2 separate regions of the Homo sapiens genome follow, and region 1 is linked to region 2. Evidence: fine-mapped expression QTL. Tissue or cell type: thyroid. Region 2 holds a variant in brackets; the other region holds the start of a gene. All regions are shown on one strand. Distances are between the middles of the regions.

Region 1 (8,000 bases), 19 kb before region 2:
AACAAACCAACGAAGGAACAGAACACAAAACACCACATGTTCTCACTTGTAAGTGGGAGCTGAATAATGAGATCACATGGACACAGGGAGGGGAACAACACACACTGTGGTCTGTCAGAGAATGGGGTAGGGGGAGGGAGAGCATTAGGAAAAATTGCTAATGCATGCTGGGCTTAATACCTAGGTGATGGGTTGACGGGTGCAGCAAACCACCATGGCACACGTTTACCTATGTACCAAACCTGCACATCCTGCACATGTACCCCGGAACTTCAAAGAAAAAAAAAAATCGGTCGGAGCAGTGGCTCAGGCCTGTTAATCCCAGCACTTTGGGAGGCCGAGGCAGGTGGATCGCGAGGTCAGGAGTTCAAGACCAGCTTGGCCAAGATAGTAAAACTCCGTCTCTAATACAAAAATTAGCTGGGCTTGGTGGCGGGCACTTGTAATCCCAGCTACTCCAGAGGCTGGGGCAGAGAACTGCTTGAACCCGGGAGGCGGAAGTTGCAGTGAGCTGAGATCGCGCCACTGCACTCCAGCCTCAACGACAGAGACTCCGTCTCAAAAAACAAAACAAAAACAAAAAGAAACAAACAAAAATTAGCTGGGCATGGTGGCGGGCGCCTGTAATCCCAACTACTCGGGAGGCTGAGGCAGGAGAATCGCCTGAACCCGGAAGGCAGAGGTTGCAATGAGACGAGATCACACTACTACAGTCCAGCCTCCGCAATAGAGCAAGACTCAGACTCAAAAAAAAAAAAAAAAAAAAAAATCTTCAAATGGCACCTGATATCCTGCAGCTGTACATCCCAAACACAGAATCTAAGATTAACGCTGATGAAATGAGTACGGAACAAGGACAACTTTGTGAATTTTTTCTAAAGTTAAAGTATTCAATGGATTGTTTATTGTGAGATTTTGCTTCCTGCTTTTTTGGTGTTAAAATATCCTTTTGTTTATGAAAAGATAGATGAGTAAATGATAGTTTTTAAGAAACATCTCCACCTAGTAAACAGAAAAGTTGGCAGAACTACAGCAGCTGAGTTTTATTTTATATTGTAATGGCTCAATACAAAAATGTCAGGGAAACACTGAATGACCGGAAATCCAAGAAATCCAAAAGGCAAACAAGGCCCTCACTGATTTATTTCCTCTCACTTTCCCAGACGTTTTGCTCCAGCAATATAAGAGTGCAAGGATGTCCAGCATACAACCTACTAATTATTTCCCTTTCCTCATGCTTTCCCATGAATGGAATGACCTCAACAATTTCTTCTCTTCTTCATATACTCATTTTATTGAATACATCCTATGTGCCAAGCACTAGATATAGGGTAGTGAACAAAAGAAAAACATCACTGTTTTCAAGGAACTCATAGTCTAGTGGAGGAAACAGACAACAAATCAAGATAGAATTTAAAAGGCCGATAAGTACGTCTTATGGAGAATGCAATGACGAAGCCCAAAAGTGAAGGCAGGAAGGCTAGTCAGGAGGCTACTAGAGTTCAGGTAAGAGATAACTCTGATTTGGATTAGGGTGGAGGCCTAGAGATATCAAAATGTGGAGCTGACCGGACTTGCTACCAAGCAGACAGTGGCTAAAAGAAATAAACCCCAAATGACTCTGGCACAAGTGTCTCTTGGTACCAACCTGGGCTAGTCTAGTCGGCTAAAGGATAAGAGACCACACGGAGAAAAGTCAAGAGGAGACCATGTGAAAGAATCTTAAACAAGCTTATAGTCTGAGACCCTACCCCCACCCTCCAAACATATGAGGAAGTCCAGCCAAATGAGCAGAGCTTCCCAGCAGATCCATTACTGAACAAGGATGCATCAATGAGCCCAACTAGGACTAGAAGAACCACTCAGCTGACCCGTAGACTTGTGAGCAATAATAACTGCTTCTTGTTTTGAGACACTGAATTTTGGCTTCACTTTCTAATGCACTAACTAAACATGGTGATACCATCTACTGACATGGGGTGACTGGAAGAAACACGGTGGCAAAGAGGAAAAGGAAAAAAATAAAAAGAAAAATCAAGCTTATCCTCTCTCATCCTAGTCAACTCTTAACCTACCCTTCAAAGCTCAACTTAGATATTAACTCCTCCAAGACGCCTTCCCAGATCCCCAGACTAGTTTAGGAAAGATATTCAAGTACTACCATTGTATTTTGTACATATCCCTATCACTGCCTTCCCATATTGTTTTACAATTATCTGTTTACAATTTTCTTCCTAACTAGCTAATAGTCCTCTTTTGTTACGGAAGGTGTCTTGTTCATTTTGATATTATCAGGACGTAACACAAAACAGGTACTCGGTAAATATTTCTGAATTTAATAAATCAATTAGCATAAACTTATTTTATACTTTAATGTCTGTTATTATAATTAACTGTAGATCACTATTTCTCAAAGTGTGATCTCTGAAAACATGCATCAGAATCAGCAGGGGTGTGAATTTTAAAATGCAGATCTCTGGGCTCTATCATAACGAAAATGCCGTTAAGTTGTAAAAACAAGAGTAAGGATATTCTACCAGCTACAGATAAAGCAAGGAGTAGCAGTGTGGGAGTAAATCCACTTTTCCTCACTATCTTCTAGAGATGTTCTCTACCAGAGTTCTTAATGTGCCAGGAACTGAGTAATTAAAAATGCTATGACTGGAATGTAGTTTCTCTTCTAAGAAACGGCTCTCGGTCAGAGGAAACAGGAACTGGGGGTCCTCCAAGGAGGTGTGGTTTCTCAACGCACACGTTCACAAGCGATGCTCCAGGAGGAAGGAATGTTCTCAGCGTCCCCCGAAACAGAAGCCAGGCTGTGGACACACAGCAGCCAGAGCCCCAGGCACTACCCGCACGCCAGCCCTCAGACCTCAGACCTCAGAGGCTGGGCTGCTGACGGAGGGGGCCCAGGGTCCCGTTACCGAAGAGCGCGCGAAGGCGGCTCCCACCGGGTTCTGGGATGGGCATCATTCCCCAGAAGCAGCGGCCTCCGTGAGTCCACGCAAGCCGCCACGGTGGCTTCGCTTGCCAGTCAGAAAGAAAGAAATTGCGGGAAGGGTCAGGCCGGAGGCAGCCGAAAGGGGAAAGGAACGGAGTACGAAGGGCGCCGCCGCTTCCCACCTGCGTCAAGCTCCAGCTGGTAACAAGGCAGCGGCTCAAGAGAGAGCTTGTAACCCTCGAAGCGGGGATCCAACAGAGGTCTCTTCACCCGTAGGGAGCAATTAGCCGCCACCTCCATCGCTTTCCAGGGCCGCAGCGTGAGAATTAATAAAGCCCTTGTTGAAAGGTCCGCGCTTCACGCCTCGCACAGAGACTGGGAAGCGGCGTGGTTCCCATCCCAGAAAACACTGCGGTGCGAACTGCCTTCTGGGAAATGTAGTGTCCGTGAAAAAGTTGAGACTGTTGCATGCTGGGCTATGTAGTTCTCCTGGTACTTAACGCGCGCGCGACGGCAAGGTCTGAACTCTGTTACCCAGAGGCCCTAGCAACCAGGAGGCGGCCCGCGCTGGTTAAATTCTCACATTATAGGCAGGGTGGCGAGACCCCGCCCCGGAAATGCGTGTTCTAGCTTTCTGTGTGCTTAGGTGCCCGAGCTACTGAGGGTCTAAGTCCGGGCAGCCGAAGAGTGTGGTAGGTAACGGTCCTCAGCGCAAGGGTCATTTCGTCGCTGGGAAGGGACGGCCCTCGCCCGCGGTGATGGTGGTGAGCTATGCCCGTGGTCCTCAGGGCCGGGACCCGGGCCCAGCCCAGGCTCCTTTCGATGTACTGTCTTTCGTTAGCGTCCCCGACCCGCGCTCGCGGGCCTGTAGGGCTCTCCGACAGGGCGTGCTACCGGAGTTGGCCTGAAACCAGTCCTCGCTTTGTTTTCTGGCTCCTCCTCTCCCGCCTCTCCCGCTGTCTCCGCCCTGTTCTATTTTCCCTAAGAATGTCTGAACTGGGAGGGATACCCTAGCGCCCTTGTTTTACCAGTGAGAAAACTGAGGCCTTTAAGAATTAAGTGACTTGTCCAAGGTCACTATCCGTATTTTAGGAGCCAAGACGAGATCAAGTTCAATATTCCAGGAGTGGTACTGACTAGACCTTGTAGTTATTTTGAAAATGTTAGCCTCCAATTACAAAAGCAAGCATTTCCTAGTTCTCACTCAACTTCTCCTTTTCCCTGTTCCTCTCAAAAAAGAAAAAAAAAATCAACTCTGGTAACTCATTGCCAGTCTGAATTTTCAATAGGCCAGATGGAAGACAACAAAAGTAATCTCAAGTTAGTGACAGATTAGGTGGGAAAACGTTAGTTTACGCCAAGTTTTATTTAATTTAAACTTTTAAGTGGCTTTAACGCTTTCAAAACCTAACTTTCCTCTTCTTTCAACATCATTTTGGTTTGGGTTGTCTGTTTTTACTGACAATTGAGGACTTTGTAAGTTAGGAATTAGTTTGAGATTTGTTTTCTTCTTATCCCACCAGCAGTGTGTGTGTAAACACACACATCCACACACTTAGGTTTAGCAGTTGTAATTGTGGGTTCATCCTAGTGAAGAGTAAAGCAAAACACTTAGAGCCTTATCTAGTAATTTTATTTTTTTTGATTAATTAATTTTTTTTTTTTTTTTTGAGACAGAGTCTTGCCCTGTCACCCAGGCTGGAGTGCAGCAGCGCAATGTCGGCTCACTGCAACCTCTGTCTCCTGGGTTCAAGCGATTCTCCTGCCTCAGCCTCCTGAGTAGCTGGGATTACAGACACCTGCCACCAAGCCCAGCTTATTTTTCTATTTTTAGTAGAGACGGGGTTTCACCATCTTGGTCAGGCTGGTCTTGAACTCCTGACCTCGTGATCCACCTGCCTGGGCCTCCCAAAGTGCTGGGATTACAGGTGTGACCCACTGTGCCCGGCCTGGTAATTTTATTTTTTTACTAATAGTATTTAATCTTTTTTTGATGTTTAGTATGTATGACTTCTCCCAATTTTTGGATGCAGTCTCTGCAGAAGTGATCGGCAGTTATGTTCAGTTTTGGAGCTCCTAGGGTCAAAGTACTTGAGTTCAAATTTTGCCTTTCCACTTTCTATCTCTGTGCCTCAGTTTCCTCATCAGTAAAATACAGATTATTTTATTAATATAAATATGTAACAATACGTTCTGGGAATTAAATGTGATGTTTAAAAAAAAGCAAACCCACACTGCATTAGCCCAGTGCCAAGCACATAAGTGTTTAATAAAGAGTAATGATATTATTAACACACTTGAAATGTATCACCCCTTCAGTTAATAGAATGGTAAACATGTTAGGATGCCTGCCTAGAGGATTTAGCAGAAAATGCTTTGTAAATGTTCTATATCTGAAAGTACATGTTGATGTCCAGGTTAGCAAGATGAACAAAGATGCGCAGATGAGAGCAGCGATTAACCAAAAGTTGATAGAAACTGGAGAAAGAGAACGGTAAGTAATAGATTGTGTTAATAAATTACATTTCACCGCCTTTAATAGTTAGCTTGTAAGAATCTAAACAAGAAATGAAACATGTCACTGGAAAGAATTACAATTGAGATTATAAAAGTTTCTATTCCGAACATCTGGAAAAAATAATTTAGGTTTGTTAAGTATTGCAGGACTTGGAGGGAAGTGGTGATGTAGAAAGATGAGCAAGATATGGCTCTTAAAGAGTAATTTGATGGAGAAGAAAAAGTACATACCTGAATTACAACTGGAGACATAATGTTACCTGGGTTTTAACAGGGAGACAATGTTGTGGAACCAGCTTCATTTACCAAGCTCTCAACCTTGGAGCAGCAAGTGCTGTTTCCACTCTCTAAAACATTCTTCCTTCTCTTCCTTTTTAGCTAATTCTAGCTCAACTATCAGGTCTAATTTATATATTGTCTCTTCAAGGAATGTTTTTAAGTCCCAAATACCTTGTTCCATCATAGCATTTAATCAACATTGTGTTCTAACAATCTACTTGGCTAGTTTGTATCCTCCAGTATAATCTAAGTTCTTTAACACCAAAAACAACATTGTATACCCAGCATCTAATGCTTTGTTTGGTTCATAATTGGCCACGTAAATATTTGCAGAATCAACAGGTTTAGAAGTACAAAGAAGGGGCTGAGGAATCAAGAAAGGCTCCCAGAGGCAGGGTTATAAAGTGAGTAAGACAAATATGTATAAGGAAGAGGCAAATATGTATAAGGAAGAGGGGGAATCTTTCAACTCAACCCGGGCATTCAGGTGATCATGTAAGATCTCACACAATAAGAAAAAGAGGTGCATCTGTTGCTGACTTTATTTTTGGATGATGGGAGTCATTTAAAGTTTTAAGAAAGGAAATGACTAGATCACATTTACACTTTAGGAATCTTACTCTGTTGGTGTGGAGCTTGGACTTGAAGGGGACAAGATAGATGGCAGAAAAATGAGGTAGAAGATTATATAGGGTTGAAAATGGAAAACTCCAAAAATTGGAAGGAGACCTTAGAATTTTAATAAAATGTAGAAACAGCAACCCTCAAAATGAGGAAGGAGGCATCGATAACTGCCTTGGGTAGCTTTAGAGGATAGTACTGCTGGTAAGGAGTACGGATTGTATGTTGTTTTTTTTTTTTGTTGTTTGTTTTTGATTCATGCAGCTTCAAGTTACTGAGTTTCTATCATATGCCATGCCCTGTTAAGGTGTTGGAGGTAACAGTAGTAGACAAAAATGGAGACTTTGTTTTCACAGAGCTTGCATTCTAATGGGAGGAGACAGATAAAACTGTGTAATAATGTCAGATGGTGATGAGCACTAGAGGAACAATAAAGCAGAAAATAAAGAGGTGTAATATTTTAGATAGAAAAAACAAAGAAGAAATCAGAAGGAGGCCGTGCATAGTGGCTCACGCCTGTAATCCCAGCACTTTGGGAGGCTGAGGCTGGCAGATCACAAGGTCAGGAGATTGAGACTATCCTGGCTAACATGGTGAAACCCCATCTCTACTGAAAATACAAAAATTAGCCATGCATGGTGATGGGCTGTAGTCCCAGCTACTCAGGAGGCTGAGGCAGGTGAATCGCTTGAACTCGGGAGGCGGAGGTTGCGGTGAGCTGAGATCGCGCCACTTCACTCCAGCCTGGGTGATAAGAGTGAAACTCCGTCTCAAAAAAAAAAAAATCAGAAGGATATGAGGGTGAGCAGGGACTCTTTAAGTTCCTGAGATAGGAGCTTGCCTTTCATTTTTGAGGAGCACAGGGATGCTAGGGAGACTGAGTAAATTGGGTGAGGGAGAGTGGAGATTAAGTCAGTGGCATAGCTGGGGAGAAGGCAGATCATGAAGGATCATGTAGGCTGTAATAAAGTCTTGGAGTTTTATTCTGAGTAAATTGGGAAGGCACTGGAGGTTTTTGAGCAGCAGGAGAAGAACTAAGTGTACAAGGGAAGAAGCAGGGAGACAACCTAGAATGCTATGGTAATATTCTAGAGAAGAGATGATGGCTTGAACTAGAGTAGTAATGGCGGAGATAGTGAGAAAGGTGAATTCTAGGTATATGTTTTAAATTGAACCCAATAGGATTTGCTCATAAATTGGATGTGTAGTGTTAACAAGGCAGCTGAGTGGAAGGATACTACAGAGATTCCTAGTCTGAGGAACCAGAAGAATGGAATTGCCATTCTCAGAAGAAGAACAAACAGGATGAATTGGTAGAAAATCAAAAGTTGGATTTTGGCCCTATTAAGATTGAAAGACCTAATTAAATATTAAGATGAGAATGTCACATAGTGGATGTCTAGGGATAGTGAAAGTGGTTTGCAGGGAAAGAGAATTTGTTTGGGATGTGACATTTTTAACCTGAGAAGTTAAATGATTTAGGTTGAGGATTGAAGATTTGTAAAAGTGGATATGGCAAAAGGATAAGAAAATATTTTATTGCACCTGTGATGCCATTAGTTGCATATACACTGCCACTTTTTTGCCATCGAGAGAAAGAAAACACTGGGGGCATGCCAATTACTGAATCGTTAAAATGTGG
Region 2 (8,536 bases):
CAATACAGCATTGTTAGCTATAGGCACTGTGCTGCATAATAGATCACTAGAATTTACATAACTGAAACTTTGTACACTTTAACCATCATCTTCTCGTTTCCCCATCACCCCAGCCCCTGACAATCATTCTACTCTCTGCTTCTATCAGTTTGACTATTTTAGATTCCACATATAGGTGAGATCATATAGTATTTATCTTTCTGTGTTTGGCTTTTTCACTTAAACATTATATCTTCTAGGTCCATTCATGTTTTCACAAATGGCATGATTTCCCTCGTTTCTCAGGCTGAATAATTCTAGTGTGGAGGAGAGTGGGTAGATTAATGTGGATGTGTGTATTAAATTTTCTTTATTCATTATCCATCGAAGGACACTTAGGGTAATTCCATATCTTGGTTACAGTGAATGATGCTTTAATCGACAGGAGGTGCAGACACATATTGAAGATCCTGGTTGGGTGCAGTGGCTCATGCCTGTAATCCTAGCACTTTGGGAGGCCAAGGTGGGCAGAACGCATGAGCCCAGGAGTTCCAGACCAGCCTAGGCAATATGACAAAATCCCATCTCTACAAGATATTCAAAAACTAGCTGGGCATGGTGGCACACGCGTATAGTCCCAACTACTTGGGAGGCTGAGGTGGGAGGATTGCTTGAGCTCATGAGGTCAAGGCTGCAGTGAGCCATGATTGCACCACTACACTCAAGCATGGGGACAGATGAGATCTTGTCTCAAAAAAAAAATTCTGATTTCAATTCCTTTGGATATATACCCAGAAGTGGAATTGCTGGATTATATCATAGTTCTATTTTTTAACATTTTGAAAAAAATCTTCATACAGTTTTTCATCATGGCTGTACTAATTTACATACAAACCAACAATGTATCAGGGTTCCCTTTTCTCCACATTCTCGCCAACACTTATCTTTTGACTGTTTGATAATAGTCATTCTAAAAGTTGTGGGGTGAAATGGTGATTTTGATTTGCATATCCCTGATGGTGATGTTTAGCACCTCATCATACAGCTTTTAGCCACTGCTATGTCTTCTTCTTTAGAGAAATATTTATTGGTCCTTTGTCTGTTTTTTTAATTGGGTTGGTTTATTGTTGTTTGTTTTTTGCTATTGAGTTGTAGGAGTTCCTGATATTGTGGATATTAACCTCTTATCAAATATATGGTTTGAAAACACATTCTTTCATTTTATAGATTGCCATTACACTCGGGATTGCTTTCTTTGCTGCAAGAAAGCTTTTAAATTTGATGTAATCTCGCTTGTTTATTTTTGCCTGTATTTTGGCATCATATCCAAAACATCAGTGCCAAGACCAAGGAGCCTTTTCCCTGTTTTCTTCTAGTTTTACGGTTTCTTGTCTTTGAGTGTTTAATCAACTTTTGAGTTGATTTCCTGGTACTTAAGATATATGGATTAAACAGTTTTTTCTTTTTTCATGTGCACATCTAGTTTGCCTAGCATAATTTATTGAAAAGACTGTTATTTCCCATTTTATATTCTTGGCATTTTTTTCAAAAATTAGTTGACTGTACATGCATGGGTTTATTTTGGGCTCTCTATTCTGTTCAATTGGCTCACGTCTTTTTATGCCAGCATGACACTTTTTTTCTTTCTTTCTTTCTTTTTTTTTTTTTTTTTTTTTGAGACAGGATCTCCTTCTGCCACCCAGGCTGGAGTGCAGTGGCATGATCATGGTTTACTGTAGTCTCAACATCTCAGGCTCAAGTGATCCTCCCACCTCAGCCTCACAAGTAGCTGGGACTGCAAGTAGCATGTGGCACTACACCTGGCTAATTTACAAAAAAAACTTTTTTTGTGGAGTTGTGGTCTCAGGTCTCCATATGTTGCTCAGGCTGATCTCAAACTCCTGGGCTCAAGTGATCCTTCCACCTCAGCCTCCCAAAGTATGATGCTTTTTTGATTACTGTATTTGTTATAGCTTTATAAAATTATTTGAAACCAGGAAATGTGATGACTTCTGCTTTGTTCTTTTTGTTCAAGATTGCTTTGGCTTTTCAGGTCTTCTGTGGTATCTTTTGAATTTAAGGCTTGCTTTTTCTGTTTCTGTGAAAAATATTATTGAAATTTTAATGGGATTGCATGGAATATGTATATTCCTTTGAGTAGTATGGACAGTTTAACAGAATTAGGTAGTCTAAGCCATGAACATGGTTTGAAAAGAAATAATGGTCACAACCTCAAATGAACACTTTTTTCCTGCCCAAGAACTCCAGTACATTTTCCTAGGGTATACACTTTCCTACTCACCAAAATGCCTGTTTCCCACTTCTCTCCAGCACTAATAACACTGCCTCATGCTTATCAAGGCAACAGCAGCAATCTGACAAGAACCTGGCATGATCCCATCACCAAATTTACCAGTCTTCCTGAATCTGGACCCATACATTTAACCTTGCCTCCACTTGTCCCCTGGATTCCAGCACCTCTCTTCTTCTCAACGATCTCTCTCTTACAGTTGTCCCTCCCTCTCTTCCATTAGAATTTTAACCCTCTGCTACATCAGCCATAGCAGCATAGTCACTTGGCCTGGTAACTACATTCTTTTATAAAAACCATGTCTTGATCACGTATCTCCCTCTAGGAACAGCCCCATTCCTCTGCTCCCATTATAAGCAAAAGTTTTTAATTGGATTGTCTCTACTCCTTCACCTCCCACTCAACTCCCTCAATTTGGCCTCATGGAAATCACCATTCCATGGAATCTATGTCTAGGTCAAGAGAGATTATCACCCTCTTCAACCTCCCAAAAGCATTGATAACAAGTGATGATTCTACATCTTCAGATGCGTTCTTCTCTTAATTTCTGTACTGCAATAGTGTTCTGCTTCCCCTCTCACCCACGGCTGCTGTCTGTCAGTCTTATTTGCTAACCTGTCTTCTGCTAGACCTCTAACTGTTGGAGTTTTCCAAATCCTAATATTATGACCCACTTTCTTTTGTATCTTTACCCTCTGCCTAAATCAGTTGTTCCTAACCTTTTCTGAGTCCCTTTGGAAGTCAAGTGAAGACTATGAACTCTTTCTCAGAATATTATGTTTAAATACACATAATAAAATTTGTAGAATTATACAGGAAACAAATTATATTAAAATTATAGTTATCAAATATTTCAAAATAAATGCATGATATTCATCTTTATTAACACAAAAATAAGACAATATATTTTAAATACGAGTAACTTTAAAATTGTACCTTATTTTAAAAAAATCAGGGTAAAGTTGTTTCTTAACTTGGATAAGAACATTACACTGTAGGGTTGTGATTGACAGGACAACATGCTTGTTACTGTTATGCAGGATATGTCGTCAATTTCAAATTTTTGTTTTAATGTTTGTAAGTATTGAAACTCTTGATTAGTTAAGATTGTGTGTGTGTGTGTGTGTGTGTGTGTGTATGTTTGTAGCAAAAAGGATATCTTACTTCATTTGGACTGCTATAACAAAATAGCATAGACTGGGTGGTTTATAAACAACAGAAATGTATTACTTACAAACAGGAAGTTGTTTCTTATAGTTCTGAAGGTTGGGAAATTGGTGATCAAGGTGCCAGCGATTTAGCGTCTGATGAATGCCATCTTCTGGTTCATAGAAAGAATCTTTTCACTGCATCCTCACATGGTGGAAGGCGTGAATGAGGTCCTTTGGGCCTATTTCATAAGGACACTAATCCCATTCATGTGGGCTTTCCATGACCCAATCACCTTTCAAGAGCCCCCACCTCCTAACAGCATAACTTTGGTATACCATCACTTTCAATACACAAATTTTGGGAGGATACAAACATTTAGATCATAGCATTAAATTAAAGTTTTTTAAGCTTATTTTACAAGGCCAAGATAAGCTTGCCTCAAAAGATATCAGAATCCTCAAAGGTTTTTTGAGTTATATCCTACCTATAATGTTTTTGAGCCTAAGATCAAAGATTATAGACTAGGACAATGCTTTCAATTACAGTTTATATCAGAAAGGAAAGGATTCTGGATTCATAGTTCAACTTTAATACAATTAAGATAGAAGTAACTTCCAAAAGGGTACTAAACAGTTTCCAGATATTTATAGATATCTCTTTCAAAGAAATTGATAGTTAGCTAAGGGTAAAACATTTCAAAGTTTGGCAAAGATGTCAGTTTCTATTTTGATATTCCAAATCAGCTACATATTCTGGAAAGATTATAATATTATTTAAAGTAGAAAGCCTAATGAACTTGAAAATTTTAGCCCATCCATGTGGCTAAAAATAATTGCCAGGTAAGCCAACCCATGCATCAATAGTTTTTTTCGAAGTATTCTGAATGCAGAATTTCTTTTCTTTAAGAAACATTAAGTAGTTGCCCTTAACTTAAACAAGCTCTTAAATCATACCCCTCACTCCCAAAATAAATTCATATATTTATGGTCAAATGATTTTCAAGAAAAATGCCAAGAACAAATGATGAGAAAGGACAGTGCCTTCCAAAAATAGGGCTGGGAAAACTGAATATCTACATGCAGGAGAATGCAATTAGGCCCTCATCTCATACCATAAACAAAAATCGACTAAAATAAAGATTTAAATGTAAGACTTGACACCATAAAACCACTAGAAAAAAAATATTGGGGAAAAGCTTGATGACATTGGTGTGGGCAATACTTCGTTTTGGATATAATTCTAAAAGCACAGGCAACAGGAAAAAAAAAGACAAATGGGCTAACATCAAACTAAAAAGCTTCTTCACAGCAAAGGAAACATCGACAGAGTGAAGAGACTATCTATTAAATTGAAGAATATATTTGCAAACTGTACATCTGATAAGGGGTTAATATCCAAAATATATATGAAACTCTTATAACTCAACAGTAAGAAAACAAACAACCAGATTAAAAATAACCAAGGACTTAAATGGACATTTCCCCAAAGAAGACATACAAATGGCCAACAGGTATACAGCAAGGTGTTCAACATTAAGCCAGTATAGGAAAGAAACTCGGTCCTGGCAGATAAGTGACATAGTAACCCAGATCTCCTCACC[C/T]CCACTCCATAGGCCTCAAATGTCTGGGCATTTCCCTGCCATACCTTCTTGCCTCCCTTAACAAGCTGACCAAAGTCAGGGAGTAGAAAGCTGCCTCTTCCTAACTTAGCTGACCTGGCTGAATCCCTAACCATAAAAAGAAGAAACTGACCATTTATATCTTTGAGTGATGTCTTCCAAGGTTACTGAAGTGAGACTCTGGCATTCCCAACAATAAACAGACCAGATCCAGCCAGCCGAAGACAAGATGAATGAATTCCAGCACTGATCTTGCATGAAGTTTCCCTCATTGTAATACTGCAAATCACATCCAGGGGTGGGGATTTAGCATGCTAATGACACATACGACACATGAAGAAATATGTTATCAAACTGCGCAGGTGCTAAAAGTTTCCTTCCTCTATATGCCTACACATAGCTCCTTTTCTCGCCTTAGCTCCCTTAAAATGACAAGAGCCAAGCCCTTTGGGGAGCCGGCACTGAGATCCATTTTCTGTACATTTCTGCTTGCTTTGTGTGACCTGGAAGCCTATTAAAACCTTGCCTAGACAGAGCAAGACTCCGTCTCAAAAAAAAAAAAAAAAAAAAAAAAAAAAAACCCTTGCCTAAGAAAAAATTCTGTTTGGTCTGGTGTTCATTTCTATTTACTTGAGAGTCAAGAATTCATAGTCTGAGCTTCAGTAAAAACATCACTAATCATCAGGGAAATGCAAATAAAACCACAATGACATATTACCTCACACTTGTGAGAATAGCTATAATAAAAAAGACAAAAGATAACAACTGTTAACAAGAATCTGGAGTAAAAGGAATCCTGGTGCACTGTTGGTAGCAATGTAATTCAGTACAGCCATTAAGGAAAATGGTATGGAAGTTCCTCAAAAAATTAAAAATGGAACTATCATATGATCTAGCTATCCTACTTCTGGGTATGCATTCAAAGGAATTGAAATAAGGATTTGTAAGATACATCTGAACTCCCATGTGCATTTCAGAATTATTCACAATAGCCAAGATATGGAATTAATGTAAGTATATATCAGCAAATGAATGAAGAAAATATGGTATGTATACACAAGGGAATACTATTCAGCCATTAAAAATAGTAAAAAAACTGTGATTTGCAACAACAGGGATGAACCTGGAGGACATTATGTTAAGTGAAATAAGCCAGGCACAGAAAGACAAATACTGCATAATCTCACTTATATGTGGAATGCAAAAAGGTCGAACTCATAGAAACAGAGAGTTGAATGTTGGTTACCAAAAGTTGGAGGTGAGGGGCTTTGGGAGATGTTGGTCAATCGATACAACATTTCAGTTAGACCAGAGGAATAGTTTCAAGGGATCTATTGTACAACATGGTGACTACAGTTCAAAACAACATATTGTGTGCTTGGAAATTGATAAGAAAGAAGATTTCAAGTGTTCTCATCACACACACACACACACAAACAAGTTATAAATAAATAACTCCTGCTCCCTTGGAAATCAGTGAACTTTTATTTGATAAAATGTACTTTATATTTTGGTTGCCCTATTTCTTGATCATTTTTAAAACATGCGACAATTCAGGGGGTACTTTAAATAATGTCGATGACTTCTATGATTGGTGACAAAGCTTCTCTCAGGATTGTAAAAACAGCCTTTATTCCTATTGTATGTCTGTGTAAAAAACAACAAGTAATGACAGCATGAGGTGATTTCATTGTCACTAAGGTAACAATACCAGATACATTGAAAAGCATTGTTGGAACCAATTAAGTAAAGAGTGTATAATGCTTTAATTTTTCCAATCAATGTTTTACTTGGAAAAAGAATATAAAACAAACCAGAACAATAAAACAATTTTTTACCTTTCCCAAAATGTCACCAGCCTGGTTAGTTTCCAAAAGAGACTCACAAAATCAGAATTTTGCCAGGTGCAATACTGAAGGGCAATGGTGAGAACATCAATCCTTTGATGGCTCATTTTAATGTTAAGATATTTCAATAATTCTACAATGTATGAACATACTGGACAAAAGCACCTCTTCTAGATTTCTCCTCTATTCCAGTGCAAAAACCAGCTTGAGCATCTCCAGTGCACATGGCTGAACTGAAGTCTCTCCAACTTTATAGGATCTTAAGTAAAAGAATTTTGCTGGCCGGGCGCGGTGGCTCAAGCTTGTAATCCCAGCACTTTGGGAGGCCAAGGCGGGCGGATCACGAGGTCAGGAGATGGAGACCATCCTGGCTAACATGGTGAAACCCCGTCTCTACTAAAAATACAAAAAAGAAAAGAAAAGAAAAAAAGAAAAAATTAGCCGGGCTTGGTGGCAGGCGCCTGTAGTCCCAGCTACTCGGGAGGCTGAGGCAGGAGAATGGCGTGAACCCGGGAGGCGGAGCTTGCAGTGAGCCGAGATCACGCCACTGCACTCCAGCCTGGGCGAAAGAGCAAGACTCCGTCTCAAAAAAAAAAAAAAAAGAATTTTGCTAAATGGAGAATTCATGTTTTCAAAGTGTCCTAGCTTTTACACCTTGAGATTTTTCTTGCATAACAAAAATCTACTATTGGCAAGACATTTTATAAATAAAGACACGGTGGCCTTGGTGTCCCACCACATTTATGCAAGCGAAGCTATAATCCAGTCTTCATCATCATCCTTCTCTTCAATATAAACTGAAATAGGTTCTGTAAAAAATATAAGAAATAATGATAAAATAAAACATTTGATTCAAGTGATATTTTGAAACTCTATATTACACGGCTTAAGGCTTTTAACAATTTGATAAATGTCATAGAAACAAGTAATTTGGCTGTCAATTAAGTAAATTATACGATATTCAAGAAATTTGTAAGACAAGTGAAATAAGACAAGTTTTTTTTCAATTTGTTCATTTTTTAGCACTTTTTATTACTTTAAACCTCAGGTAGACACAAGGTTTCAGCAGGAGTTCAGAAGCCATGCCCTTCTAGGAGTGTGAATAGTTTTGAGCGTGGAATTTCATGGCGTTTTGTGTCTATGCCTTACTACAAATAATCATTCTCATTTCTGATATTCACAGTTTTCACACAGTTATTTTTAAAATACACACTATATTCATGAAGGAGTAATCACAAATACCCATTTTACAACACACCAGGTACAAAAAAGGAATTTAAAGGAAATAAATAAGTAAATGAAAGAAACATTGACACTCACAGAAGGTACCAAACTTTGTAAAACCTTTGTTATGGCACAACATGTTAGCAATAATGAATGACTTTAACACACTTGAGCAATTGTCTCAACAGTCAAATATGTTTGACATTACCTGGGCTATGTAACTCCATGAAAATTTGCCAGTGGAGAGTTAATGATTTTTATTTGAACCATCCCATATTTGCACCCTTAAGCAATTAGAAACCTTTCATCTCCTTCCAGGCATTAAGCAACAAGGTTACATTGTTTGTTGTCTTCCTTGCTTTAGTATTTTCCGTCTAGCATTTATTAGTTTTGAACATGCTATGT

Direction of the effects. Positions count from the first base shown, and alleles are read on the strand shown. Sizes are in standard deviations (SD) of each study's normalised expression.
For the expression in thyroid of the gene that starts at base 3,318 in region 1, allele C in region 2 goes with a lower level than allele T (small effect, 0.35 SD a copy in GTEx).

Evidence for each region. PIP is the estimated chance that this variant, and not a neighbour inherited with it, causes the effect.
Region 1: NUDCD1 starts here. The variant in region 2 is fine-mapped to the expression of NUDCD1 in thyroid (GTEx, PIP 0.96).

What each region holds. Positions count from the first base shown.
Region 1 is chr8:109,330,770-109,338,769 of GRCh38, forward strand. NUDCD1 (NudC domain containing 1) reads right to left here and starts at 3,318. Exons shown (of 10, transcript NM_032869.4): 1 at 3,124-3,318. The coding sequence starts at 3,241. It overlaps ENY2 (ENY2 transcription and export complex 2 subunit), which reads left to right and starts at 3,578. Exons shown (of 5, transcript NM_020189.6): 1 at 3,578-3,705; 2 at 5,359-5,435. The coding sequence starts at 3,700. RefSeq lists enhancers at 3,010-3,059, 3,190-3,239, 3,422-4,344, 3,610-3,859.
Region 2 is chr8:109,349,705-109,358,240 of GRCh38, forward strand. No RefSeq gene overlaps it. Among named protein-coding and RNA genes, the nearest start is that of PKHD1L1, 8.5 kb to the right of the region's middle. The variant C/T (reference allele first, on the strand shown) is at 5,043.